Homo sapiens: one gene and its partner. The protein of the gene in region 2 purifies or fractionates together with the protein of the main gene of each other region. This does not show direct contact. Each region holds a gene or a part of one and is shown on either strand. Other genes may lie near its edges.

Region 1 (7,033 bases), on a different chromosome or scaffold from region 2:
GCTATACTTTCCACAAACTCCTGTCCCCACAGCTGCTGTTGGTAAAGAGTGGGGGAGCCATTGGTATGAGGTTCCTGGTAACCTGTTTCCCCGTTATAAATATTCGTAATGCCCTCTGTTCTTTAGAGGTATCCCTTTTGGAGATTAAATCTTATGGTTACCTCAGATCATGGATTCTCAATGAGTATGATATTGCCCTGAAGTGGGAGAAAATTGGTTCTCGGGAGGGTGGAAGGAATTTTACTCCTTTTATGCATAAGACACAATTATACATACAGTACATGAGCAGACATACAGTGCATCTGTGATGTTAAGATTTTGCTGGGGAGGCTATTAGGGAAAAAAATCTTAAAAGCCTTCTTGTGGGGCAATAATGAAAAAAGATACAGAAACACTTCTTTAGATGAAGGGAGCTGGCAGCAGCCTATAGAGTTGAGAAAAAGGGGGAAAGAGATTCTACAGATTCTAAAAGAAAAACTGGCTGTCATTTTCAAGAGAGGTTGGCTCTCTTGAGATATGACCTCCTGTTCTCACGTGAGTTCCCCAAGAAGGTTCCTGCCAAGCCCAGCTTTATCGATTGTGAAAACCCAGAGAGGTCTCGCCGCTCGCTCACAAGGGCTTTGTTTGGGAGCTTAGCTTGGGAGACACTGCTGCTTTCTAAGTTTGACAGCACTGGAAGTCTTTGTCCATTAATGCCAGGACCCTGAGTTTGTTTCTGTCTGAACTGAATCTCTTAGGACTAGGCTTCTGTATCACTGGATGATGTTTCTAACTTTTTTTTTTTTTCGAGACAGGGTCTTGCTCTGTCACTTAGGTTGGAGTACAGTGGTGCGATCATAGCTCACTGCAGCCTCTACCTCCTGGGCTCAAGTGAGCCTCCCACCTCAGCCTCCTGAGGAGCTGGGAATACAGGTGCATGCCACCATGCCCAGCTAATTTTTGTATTTTTAGTAGAGACGGGGTTTCACCATGTTGGCCAGGATGGTCTTGATCTCTTGACCTCGTGACCCGCCAGCCTTGGCCTCCCAAAGTGCTGGGATTACAGGCGCGAGCCACCATGACTGGCCTGTTTCTAACTTTTTATTTTTAAAAAGTGTACCCATTAATTTCTAGACATTAAACACACCTATGTTGCCAGCACCCAGATGGGTAAAAAACAGAATACTACCAAACCCTCCCAGTTGTTACACTCAAGATAGTCGCTGTCCCAACCCCACCGCTGTGGTTTGATCTGCTTTTGAACTTTGTCTAAACGGGATCCGAGGTCGGGTACTCTTGTGTGTGGTTTCTTTTGTGCAACATTGTGCCTCTGAGCCTCACCCGTGTTGCTGCATGTAGTTGGTAGTGGTAGGTTTTGCTTTCTCAGCATGTTGGTGTCTTCCCACTGTGTGGCCACAGTGTCTGTTCACCTGTCTGCCCTAAGATGTGTTGCTCAGCCAGGCACAGTGGCTCACGCCTGTAATCCCAGCACCCTGGGAGGCCGAGGCGGGAGGATCTCGTAAGCTCGGAGTTTGAGACCAGCTTGGACAACACGGCTAAACCTCATCTCTACAAAAGATACAAAAATTAGCCGAGCCTGGTGGCATACACCTGTAGTCCCAGCTCCTCAGGAGGCCGAGGTGGGAGGCTCACTTGAGCCCAGGAGGTAGAGGTTGCAGTGAGCTATGATCGCACCACTGTACTCCAACCTAAGTGACAGAGCGAGACCCTGTCTCAAAAAAAAAAAGTGTTGTTCCTTTTTGATGCTAAATTCTTTTTCCACGTCTAATACCTGGTACCTGCCGCCTCCTCCCAGGTGTAAGCCCCCGACAACCTGAGTTTCTCCCTCTACTTGGCCTTGCATCTGATTAAGGCACTGAAATAGGAAATAAAGAAATGAACAAGACTCATATCATCAGAGAATGCTGTGGATTGGAGCTTCTAAGTTACCTGAAATGCGGAAACTCTGTTACCAATGTCCCTTTATAATTGGGAAATAGGCCAGGCGCAGTGGCTCACGCCTGGAATCCTAGAACTTTGGGAGGCTGAGGTGGATGGATCACTTGAAGTCAGGAGTTCGAGGCCAACATGGTGAAACCCCGTCTCTACTGATATATGTATATATGCCGGGAGTGGTGGCACCTGAGGTCAGGAGTTTAAGACCAGCCTGGCCAAAATGGCAAAACCCTGTCTCTACTAAAAAGACAAAATTAGCTGGGCATGGTGGTACATGCCGGTAGTCCCAGCTACTCAGGAGGCTGAGGCAGGAGAATCGCCTGAACCTGGGAGGCGGAGGTTGCAGTGAGCCGAGATCGAGCCACTGCACTCCAGCCTGGGCAACAGAGGGAGGCTCTGTATCCAAAAAAAAAAAAAAAAAAAGGGAACTCGTGTGCCTGTGTTTTTGGAAAGTTGTCTATGCAGCTGTGCTAAAACACCAGAAGCAGATTGCAGCTGATTGTACCCGGGTACAGCATCACTCCAGCCCACTTAGAGCAGAAACCCAGTTTTGGAAACAACACTGCTCTTGCCCCCTGCCCCAGCTCACTGGAGCTGGTGTCTCCCCTCGGCAGCCGTTCACTGGGGCTTTCCCCAGTCCTGCCCCCTGGGCTCTTTCCCTTTTGACACTGCAGTCTGGGGTTGTGTGTATCTCCGTCTAAGCATGGTAGGGCCAGCACCCTCACCAGCGTGGAGACAGCCAGGGTCCCCGGGTGGCAGATAGCCGCCTCATGCCCTCATATGCGTCTCTCAGGCCGCTAAGCCTGTACTATGACTTGATCACCGCCACTGTAGTACTTTTTAATTTCCTTCCTTCAGCTCACACCCAAGAGGGGCCTCCAGTCAATGTCTGTAGAAGCACTGACCATTCCTGCATAATTAGAAGCTGAGGCCTAGCACGGTGGCTTATACCTGTAATCCCAGCACATTGGGAGGCTGAGGCAGGAGGATCGTTTGAACTCAGGAGCTGAAGACCAGCCTGGGCAATGTAGTGAGACCCCATTTCTACAAAAAATAAAAGTAAAAAATAGCTGGATATGGTGGCACACACCTGTAGTCCCAGCTGCCAAGGAAGCTGAAGTGGAGGGATTGCTTGAGACTAGTTTTGTTTTGTTTTGTTTTGTTTTGTTTTGTTTTGTTTTGTTTTGTTTTGTTTTGTTTTTGAGATGGCGTTTTGTTCGTGTTGCCCAGGCTGGAGTGCAGTGGCTCACTGCAACCTCCGCCTCCGGAGTGCAAGTGATTCTCCTGCGTCAGCCTCCTGAGTAGCTAGGATGACAGGCGCCCGCCACCACAACCAGCTAATTTTGTATTTTTACTAGAGACGGGGTTTCACCATGTTGGTCAGGCTGGTCTCGAACTCCTGACCTCAGGTGACCTGCCCACCTCGGCCTCCCAAAGTACTGGGATTCCAGGCATGAGCCACCACGCCCGGCTGAGCCTAGGAGTTTCAGGCCGCAGTGATCTCTGATCTACTGTTGCATGCCAGCCTGGGAAACAGAGCAAGACCCTGTTTCTAAAAATGAGAAAAAATTTAAAAGCCCGGTGTAGGCCAGCCTGGCTCTCTTTGTGGGTAACCAGGATAAATAGAGATCTCCACGTGTGTGACCTGTGAACTGAAAAGCCAGCCTGGAATGGAAGAGCGGGAGAGCCCGTCCTCTGAACTCAGAAGGAAATGCCAAGTCGGATCTGTCTGGCATCCTCCACAGGCTGTGAGAATGTGGCCTGCTCCTGTAGCATGGACAGAGAAGTTGCTGTTGGAATTGACTGGATGTGGAAATACCACAGGGAAATAAAGTGTCTCAATGACAAACGCATGTATGGCAACAAAAAGAAGATTTGAAAGGGAAGAAAAAAATAAAACCCACTGCTGTAGGACACATGTTAAGAAGCAACTTTTAAGAATTCAGAGCCTGGGCAGTTTAGGGAGACGTTGTCCCTGCAAATTATAAAAATCAGACAGGCGTGGTAGCGTGTGCCTGTAGTCCCAGTTACTCAGGAGGCTAAGGCGGAAGAATCACTTGAGCCCAGGAGGTCAAGGGCGACATAGTGAGACCTCGTCTCTACAAAAAAATTTTAAAATTAGCCAGGCATGGTGGCACACACCCGTAGTCCCAGCTACTCAGGAGGCTGAGGTGGGAGAATCACTTGAGCCCAGGAGGTCAAGGGTGCAGTGAGCCGAGATTGTGCCACTGCACTCCAGCCTGGGCAACAGAGTGAGACCCTGTCTCAAAAAAAAAAAAAAAAAAGTCGAACCACATAGCTGCTAATACCTAATAGCCCTCGGTCAGTTTTCTTCCTCCAACCACATTTCCCCTCTTCAGGCTAGTGCCCAGCCAGTTCTTCACCTCAGTCACCCTGGAATAGACCAGCTATCTATGTGATAGTTTTCAGTTACCTGTTTCTCCCTATGTTGAATTCATTTATTTATTTATTTAGAGACAGGGTTTCTTTTTGTCGTCCAGGCTGGAGTGCAGTGGCACAATCATGGCTCACTGCAGCCTCAAGCTCCTGGGCTTGAGCGATCCTCCTGCCTCAGCCTCCTGAGCAGCTGGGACTACAGGCGAATGCCACCACGCCCACCTAATTTTTAAATATTTTGTTAAGACAGGAATCTCGCTATGTTGCCCAGGTTGGTCTCGAACTTCCTGGCCTCAAGTGATTCTCCCGTCTCAGTCTCACAAAGCATTGAGATTACAGGCATGAGCCACCATGCCTGGCTTGAATTGTTGTGTTGTTTGGTTTTGGGTTTTTTTGGTTTGTTTTTTGTTTTTTCTTGTTTGTTTTGTTTTGTTTGTTTGTTTTTTGTTTTTTGAGACGGAGTTCTTGCTCTGTCTCCCAGGCTGGAGTGTAGTGGTGTGCTCTTGGCTCACTGCAACCTCCATCTCCTGGGTTCAAGCAATTCTCCTGCCTCAGCCTCCTGAGTAGCTAGGATTACAGGCACACGCCACCATGCCTGGCTAAATTTTGTATTTTTAGTAGAGACAGGGTTTCACCATGTTGGCCAGGCTGCTCTCAAACTCCAGTAGCCGGGCTGTCGTCCCAGCTACTCAGGAGGCTGAGGCAGGAGAATCACTTGAACCCGGGAGGCAGAGGTTGCAGTGAGCTGAGGTTGTGCCACTGCACTCCAGCCTGGGCGACAGAGCAAGGCTCTGTGTCAAAAAAAAAAAAAGAAAGAAAGAAAGAAAGAAGTTATATTAATAAGAGAAGGAAAAAAAAAACCACGATACACAGGCATACTCAGAAACACCTGTACTTCCTGCAGTGCCCTCTGATGCAGCATTTTATTTCCTGTTTTCTTCAGTTTCATTTTGTTGAAAATGCTGGTCAGGACCCACTGGGTTGGACCAGGGCCGAGCAGGCTGCTGCGCCGTTTCTAATGTGTCTTCTCTGTCCAGGTATACCGCTGGGCCGACCACTCAAGCACGGTGCTGCAGCGGCTGAACGAGCAGCGTCTCCGCGGGCTCTTCTGCGACGTCGTCCTGGTGGCCGATGAGCAGCGTGTGCCAGCCCATCGCAACCTGCTGGCCGTGTGCAGCGACTACTTCAACTCCATGTTCACCATCGGCATGCGGGAAGCTTTCCAGAAGGAGGTGGAGCTGATCGGCGCCTCCTACATTGGGCTCAAGGCCGTGGTGGACTTCCTGTACGGCGGGGAGCTGGTGCTGGATGGCGGCAACATTGACTACGTCCTGGAGACGGCTCACCTGCTGCAGATCTGGACGGTGGTAGACTTCTGCTGTGAGTACCTGGAGCAGGAGGTGAGCGAGGACAACTACCTGTACCTGCAGGAGCTGGCCTCCATCTACAGCCTCAAGCGGCTTGATGCCTTCATCGATGGCTTCATCCTGAACCACTTCGGCACGCTGTCCTTTACGCCCGACTTCCTGCAGAACGTCTCCATGCAGAAGCTGTGTGTCTACCTGAGCAGCAGCGAGGTGCAGCGGGAGTGTGAGCACGACCTCCTGCAGGCCGCCCTGCAGTGGCTGACGCAGCAGCCCGAGCGCGAGGCCCACGCCCGCCAGGTGCTGGAGAACATCCACTTCCCGCTCATCCCCAAGAACGACCTGCTGCACCGCGTCAAGCCGGCCGTGTGCTCGCTGCTGCCCAAGGAGGCCAACTGCGAGGGCTTCATCGAGGAGGCCGTGCGCTACCACAACAACCTGGCGGCCCAGCCCGTCATGCAGACCAAGCGCACGGCGCTGCGCACCAACCAGGAGCGCCTGCTGTTTGTGGGCGGCGAGGTCTCCGAGCGGTGTCTGGAGCTCAGTGACGACACCTGCTACCTGGACGCCAAGAGCGAGCAGTGGGTCAAAGAGACGCCGCTGCCCGCCCGGCGGAGCCACCACTGTGTCGCGGTGCTGGGGGGCTTCATCTTCATCGCCGGCGGCAGCTTCTCACGGGACAACGGAGGGGATGCGGCCTCCAATCTTCTTTATAGGTATGACCCCCGCTGTAAACAGTGGATCAAGGTGAGATTAAAGCCAGATTATTTCTTTTCTCTTGAGGACTCTCTCGGTTTCCTTAACCTAGCCTTGACTTTCCTTACCTCTCTGGGGCCTTGACAACTATCCTGCTTCTGAATGAGGTGTGATGATAAAGTGACGAGCAGAATACCCCGGGGCCTACATCCTGGACAGGGAGAGGGAGAGCCGACCCACCCCTTCGAGGGGTCCGTCATCGTTCAGAGCAGCACTGCCTGGCGGGGCTTTCTGTGCAGATGGAAGGGTCTGTCTGTACTTCCCGATACGGTAGCCACAGCCGCATGTGGCGACTGAGCACTTGAAATGTGGCCAGTGCGACTGAAGAAGTCAATTTTCAATTTTATTTCACTTTAACCGATTGACGTGTAAGTGTATGTGGCCGCACGAGGCGTGGCTACCCTATTGGACAGTAGCATGGGTCTAGATGTTTGATCCATGGTTCAACATCCCCAGGTCCTGGAGTCTCTGTGGGGCTCCTCTGGAAGCATTTTGGGAGATAGTTTAAGGAGACCACTAGTGCTCACGCCTGGCCCTTGGGCATGTATTGTGTCCTGATTCTGGGAAGAGCGTGGGCCTTG
Region 2 (7,033 bases):
TTCTATTTCTATATTTATTTGTAGATTTAAATTTTTCAAAATGTAGAAGAACATGATTAAAATAAAATACATGCAATTCAGTGAAAACATTGGTTAGTGAGATGGCTTGGTATAAAATAAATATAAAAATATTTATTAGGAAAATGTATACCTATAAGCATGGAATGATAAATTATATTACTATAAGTGAAGACTGTTATACAATGATCATTATTTGCTAGTGAGTTATATGATCATTTCCAACTCAAAATGATGTTCGACTTTACATCTTATTAAAAGGTCATTTGGAAGATTAAACCGGTAAAATGTTAAAATTTAAAATAAACATTCTGGGAATTAACAGGATAAATTAGCCCCACCAATTTCTAAAACATATTACCAAGTTGTGGTTTAATTACCACAATAATTAAAACTGTGGACATTCGTTAAAAATTCCTCTCAAATATCTCTATTATGTAGAATTATGAAACACACAAAAAGAAAAAGAACACACAAAGCAATGGGGAATAAAATATTACATAATAAATGTCTTTGGGAAAATTGAGTAGCCATCTAGAAAATAGTTTTCTGAGATCTTCCCCATCATACTATGTACCCAGATGTTCTCAACCCCTAATTAAAGACTAATTAAATCAACCCCAGAACACTTAGAAGAATTAAATGGGAATCTTTCAAGTGATTACAATTTGCAATCTGAGAACTACAGCCTTAGATGTTTGCAACCCCCTCATTTGTATCATGAATAGGTTTCAGAGGTGCTGAGATCCTGACCCTCAACACTGGCAGATGAGGAGGTAGACAGCAGGCAAGGTCCGGGAAGTCAAAAGCCCCTTAGGCAGGCCACAGGAGGAGCTAGAATAGGCACATTCAAGCACAGCAGGTGGCAGTATTAATAAAACCTTGATTGGGGTTTTAAGATTGATAAGCTCTCTGACCCAGTACATCTACTTCAGAAATTGTATTTCAAGGAAATACTGTAAAATACAGAAAAAACTTTTTATAGAAAGATACTAATTTCAACCCTATGTATACACTAATAGTAAATACTTGAAAACAACCTAAGTGAAAGACAAAGTAAATTATGACAAATTCAAAGCATAGAATTTTATGAAGCCTTTTAAATGCTTATGAGCTTTCAACAACATGTAAAATATTAGCATATTAGAAGGAATCCATAAAATTCCATATAAGGTATTATAATTATGTACATTGCAATCTATACAAACATACAGGTAGGTATATACACTCTATATGCTCTCAAAATATATAAAATATATATGCAATCTAAATAATTTTTAACATGTATATAATGAATAGAACTTACAACATAATTATTTATGGCAAAAAAAAAAAGGCAGAAAATAAGATTGAAAACCACAGTAGCTGGGAGCCTGGTCTCTCTCAGCCTTTGCACACTCCCCTAGGTCCTTCTCAACTGTTATATTTCACCAAACATGATTCCCTTCAGGAAACTTTCCTGGACTCAGACCCTCTCAGGTCGTTCAGCTCTGTGCTCTTATCATATTACACATTTTCTCCCTGCCAACTACAAAAACGCAGCTATCTTGCTCCCATCATGAAATGAACTGAGAACAATAACTAAAATATATACAATCTACACATTTCTGTGAGCACTGTAAATTCCATTTCCAGATCAAATTGGACCACCGAAAGTCTACGTACATGTACTACAACAATTTAATATCAGGCAAAATCCAATTTGCCAAGATACATTTTAATAACGTGTACTTAGCTCTCACTGAAATCTTTTGTGGATGATATTTTCACTGCATTTCTTGCAAAAGATAAAAATGTAGATATGGTATGTTGCATGTATTTAAAATGTGACATGACCAATTTCTCAGAGAGTTCAGTGTAGAGAAAGCTTCAGTTCCCTATAGGGATTGATGGGCTTCTCCTTTTGTGATAATGAGATGTGTATAATGTTCTCCTTTCAGCAACAGATGCCAAGAAGCTCAGAATTAAATTTGAACATCCATTGATAAATATACTGACTCTTATGAATGACAAAATTGATGCTTCTTTTCTTGAGCCCAAGCTTTCTACTTTAATTACACTTTATTTTATTATTTCTCTGTTGTTTATTCTATTTCATTTCCAATCGCTCCAATTTATTTTCCAAGTCATGTGTCTTAATGTATATGTATTTCACTGTGAGCTAGTTGAAACTGGTTGAGGAAACATTATGAAGAAATACACAAGTATGTTTGAGGTAAACATTTTTCTTCACAAAGTATGTAACTTTAAAAAGAGCAATAAAAGCCATTATTGAGAATGGAAAGGAAACTCACAGAGTGGGTAACTGTAGTTGCAATACATACAATACTAGACAAGTGCCTCATATCATTTAGAATATAGATGGAAAAAAGTACTACAAATAAATAAAAAACCAAATCAAGCCAAGAGAAAAACAGTCAAAAGTCTTAAAAAGACACTTCAATAAAGAGTATATCCAAATGGACAGTAAATATATGAAGAAGTTGTTAACTTCATTAGTCACAATAAAATTAATATTCAAATGACAAGGATATAACATTACATACCTACTGGAATACTTAAAATGCAAAATAAAGAAAATATTAATTATTGGTGAGACTGTAGCACAAACAGCACTCTCATATAGCACTGGAAAGAGTTTAAATTTGAAAAATCAGTTGGGAAAACAGCTTTAGTTTAGTTACTAAAGCCAAACAAGCATGACTTAGGGTCCAGCAATTCCACTCCCAGAAATATGTCCTTGGTCATGCGTAGATACTTTCTCCAAAAAAAGTGTAAAAATTTTCCTAGCAGTGCTATTTGTAACAGTTCTAAATTGGAGGTCACACAAATACCCATCGAGGAAGCGATGGATAAATAAATTATGGTATATCCAAGAAAATACTAGACAGGGATAAACATGAAGGATTTACTTACAACTATAGTTGTATGCAATAATGTGGGTGAATCTCACAAACAGAATGTTGATGAAAGAAACTGGACACAAAACAATTACATACTTTATGATTCCATGTATAGAAGTACAAAAACAGGTGAAACTAGTCTGTTGGCCAAAGTCAGAAGAAGGTTAGCATGTGGGAATGTTGGGTAGTGACTACAAAGAGACAGATGGGGTTCTGTGGTGTTGACAATGTTTCTGGATTTGGGTGTTGGTTGTATCAGTGTGTTTGGTTTGATATTCACCAAGTGATTCACTTACAATATGTGAGAGAACTGTTGTAAGAAAAACCTAGAAATCTAGGTTCCAGTCCTTGCTCTATCCTTTAATAAGTATCTCTAAACAACCACAAAATAGTAAATTGTTTGAGATTTATACATTAAGTGGAAAAACACAGTCTACTCTGCCTTTTCATAAGATTGGTTGGAAAAGCCAAATGGAATGAAGATCACTAGCCCTATTATATATGAAAGAATAAATATATGACATTAAGTAATCAATTATTAATAAAGTTACTTGAAATAATAAAAACAGCACTGATATATTATTTAAATTGGATAGGAATTCCTAAATTTGATAGGAAGATGTTTGATATAATTTAATTTAAGTATATAAAGGGTAATGTAACAATTCTCTGGCCATTTAGGGAAAATAAGTCAAAATTTATACCTTCCAAAATCAAAATGACTTAAGGTGAAGCAAACTTTCAAAATAAAAAATTAAAAGTAAAACAGAATCCAGGAAAAAAAGACTGAATTTTTTCTCATCATCTTAGACAGGAAAAAGCTTTTCTAAGCCAAACCACTTTAACTTTTTTCAATGAACATGTGTAACTTTTATGATACTGCATAAAACAGCTGCAAATTATTCTCATTTCTAGATTTAATATCTATATAACATCATTGGCATTTTCTTTGGAGCCACTGATTTGAAGATGATTGTCTAATTATAGTATAAAATATAGTCTTTCATTAATTCAACTGATCAAAATAAGATAAATGGCAGCTACTATGTGCCATAAATTTTTCTTGAGGTGAGGATGCAGCAATGGGTGAAATAAACAAATTCCTGCCCTTCTGGGGCTTACTCTCTGGTAGAAGAAAAACACAGGCTCAACTAAATTAATATTAGAGGGAAAAATATAAAACAGGGAAGGGAGATGGGAGTGCTGGAGCAGGGATGGAAGGGATTGTTAAGGGTCTGAAGTTTAAAATAGAGTGGTCAGGAAGAGGCTCACTAAATAGCTAATTTTTAAACAGAAATTTGAAGCATCAAGAGATGAGGACACACAGGGTAAAATGCATTTCAGGCAGAGGAAACAGGAAGGGCAAAGGCGTGGCACTAACTGAGTTCCGGAGGCAGGGCCAGCAGAGTTGCATAAAGCAGCAAGGGTGGGCAGATCACACAGGGCCTTCCCAATAGAGGAAGCTTAGCTTTTACTCTGAGTGAGGCAGGGAGCCACCTGAGGGGTTGAGGTGACGAATGCCATGATTCGGCCTTCTCAAGTTTTAAAGGGAGCTTCTGGGCTCCACAATTAGAGAGGATGGCTTAAAAAAATTCAAAATAGAGACAAATAACAATTATAATAAGAAAGTAGGAGAATATGAGATAAGAAGAAAGGGTAGAATTGCTTTCCTTCATTCATCAAATATTTATTGAATACACTGTTAGGTTCTGGTTAAGATTAAAAAGTGACTTAGATGTGGATACTGCCCTCACGGAGAATTTACATAAGGAGATAAAACATGAGCAGAAATGACCATAATACAAAGTAGAACACAATGAATAAAGGATAACTTTCTATGTGGGTGACAGGAAGGGAGAATTAAAGAAGTCTTCTTAAAGCAGTTGGCATTTTGCTGGCCACAAAAATATAAGCTTCTTGACAGCATGTGTTCTGTCTTTTGCTGACTGCTAAATTCCTAGCATTTAAAACAGTGCTTTGCACATAGTCTGTGATCAATAGATATGTGTTACCTGATGATAGAATGAATTTGTATATGCAGATATGTAGGGAGAAGGGTGTTCGAGCAAAGGGAACAACATAAACAGAAACACAAAAATAAAGAATATGAGTTTATTTCCTTGGTTCAGATTGACTGAAGCAAATGAGAACAGTGGGAGATGAAATTTTAGAACACAGAATGGGATTAGATCACACAAGACCTTGCTGGCCCTGGGGAAGTATCTTGACTTTTTTTCTATAAGAATTGGGAAGCTCCAAAAGCTCTGAATAGTGATAGGAGCAGAACATTGTACCAGAAAGATTAGTGTAATTGTACTGATAATTGATTGAGGGAGTCAACCAATTGATAGGTGGATGATATTGTACAAGCCTAGACAAAAGGTGATGAGGGCACCCATTAGTTCATCGCCACTTGGTCCCTTCATCATTAGTACTTCTCTGCCAGAGACATCTGTTTATTTGTATTGTAATTATTTTACTTGTCTCTCTCCTTTTCTTCACTAATAATGTAGCACATTTAGCACTGGAGCTAGACACTTCTAATTATCCCCCAATATTCCTTGGCTACAGTAATAAAACATTGTGAGTTTGAGCCGGACACAGAGCTACCAGTTAAAGACTACATGTCCCAGCCTCTCTTGCAACTAGCTGTGGCCATAAGACTAGGTTTTGGCAATGGATTTGAGCAGGAGTGAGGATTGCTGTTTCTGGGACATGCCCTCATAGTGAAGCTGTTTGCTCTTCATTTCTTCCTGCCTCATTCTTGCAGATTGCTCCATACCCATTTTTCTCTCCTCCACCTGAAGTAGGTGTTGGAGATGATGCCCTTTTGGAACTACATAGCTTCCTTCATCCTTTTCCTGAGGAGACAGGTACGTGGGCTTGGGAGTTGCTTCATGGGTCAAGCTTTCATAGGCTTTTGCAAAAAGGGAAAATGTAGGTGTATTTATTACTAGGTTCTGGCCAGTTGGATGAGAATGAAAGTGGGGTGCTGTGTCTGGGTCATGCACATAATGGGAAGCTCTCTGCTTCCACTTTCCTCCTTCTTGAGGGCAGGTATTTGACCCTGGTGGTCTCGAGCCCCCCTTGTCTCAGGTGTCATTTTACAGGATGCAAAGAACAAACATGCTCCTATGCCCCTGCACCTGCCTCATGGGGAATGCTGCCCAACCTCCTGGGATTGCCTACAAAATTGAACTTCTATTATGAGAGAAACAACTTCCATCTTAATTAAGCTATTGTTATTTGGTCAGTGTTACAGAAGCCAAATTAATATTTTAATATATAATTTATAAATATTGATGATTACCACTACGTGTTAAATGAGCACATGATTGGTAAATATAAAACACACTATACATGTAAAGTATAGGTTGAACTATCCCTTATCTGAAATGCTTGGGACCAGAAGTGTTTTGGATTTGTTTTTGTTTTTTGTTCAAATTTGGAATACAGTCATCCCTCAGTCTCCATGAGGAATTGTTTCCAGGACCTCCTGCAGATACCAAAATCTTCAGATGCTCAAGTCCCTGATATAACATGGCGTAGTATTTGTATGTAACCTACACATTTCTACCTATATACTTTAAATCATGTCTATATTACTTATAATATCTAAAACAATATAAATGCTCCATAAATAGTTGCTATGCTCTATTGTTTAGGGAATAATGACTCAAAAAAAAAAGTCTGTACATGTTCAATACAGATAAAATTTTTATCCCAAACATTTCAATCCAAGGTTAGTTGAATCCATGGAGGCAGAATCTGTACAAAGAGCTGACTATATCTGTATTATATACTGATGGTCACGCCAGTTCTGAAAATCTGAAATCCAAAATGCTCAAAAGAGTTTTCTTTGAGTGTAATGTCAACACTCAAAAAGTTTTGTATTTTGGACCACTTCAGGTTTCAGACTTTTGGAATAGGAATACTCAACCTTTAATATTAAAAAAATTATTTATTCCATTCCCCTAAACTTTGAGCATAAAGCATCTATAGTCTTTTGAGAAGGAAAGCTGTAATAGAAAGCTTAGGCTGAACTCAACTTCTCTGTCACCATAACCCTGGGTCGATTTTCTAACTTGCTTCGTGATAAGCTTGTTCAGCAC

What was found. Proteins that work in one complex are often made in the same cells at the same time.
Region 1: the proteins of PACRG (region 2) and KLHL36 purify together in Homo sapiens (affinity purification with mass spectrometry; 3 studies listed by BioGRID and IntAct, with this or other methods). This does not show direct contact.

The regions. Positions count from the first base shown.
Region 1 is NC_000016.10:84,651,502-84,658,534, forward strand, and holds part of KLHL36 (kelch-like protein 36), read left to right. Parts: intron 1-5,369; coding exon 5,370-6,443; intron 6,444-7,033.
Region 2 is NC_000006.12:162,730,971-162,738,003, reverse strand, and holds part of PACRG (parkin coregulated gene protein), read right to left. Parts: intron 1-7,033. UniProt on the Homo sapiens protein: Microtubule inner protein (MIP) part of the dynein-decorated doublet microtubules (DMTs) in cilia axoneme, which is required for motile cilia beating. Suppresses cell death induced by accumulation of unfolded Pael receptor (Pael-R, a substrate of Parkin).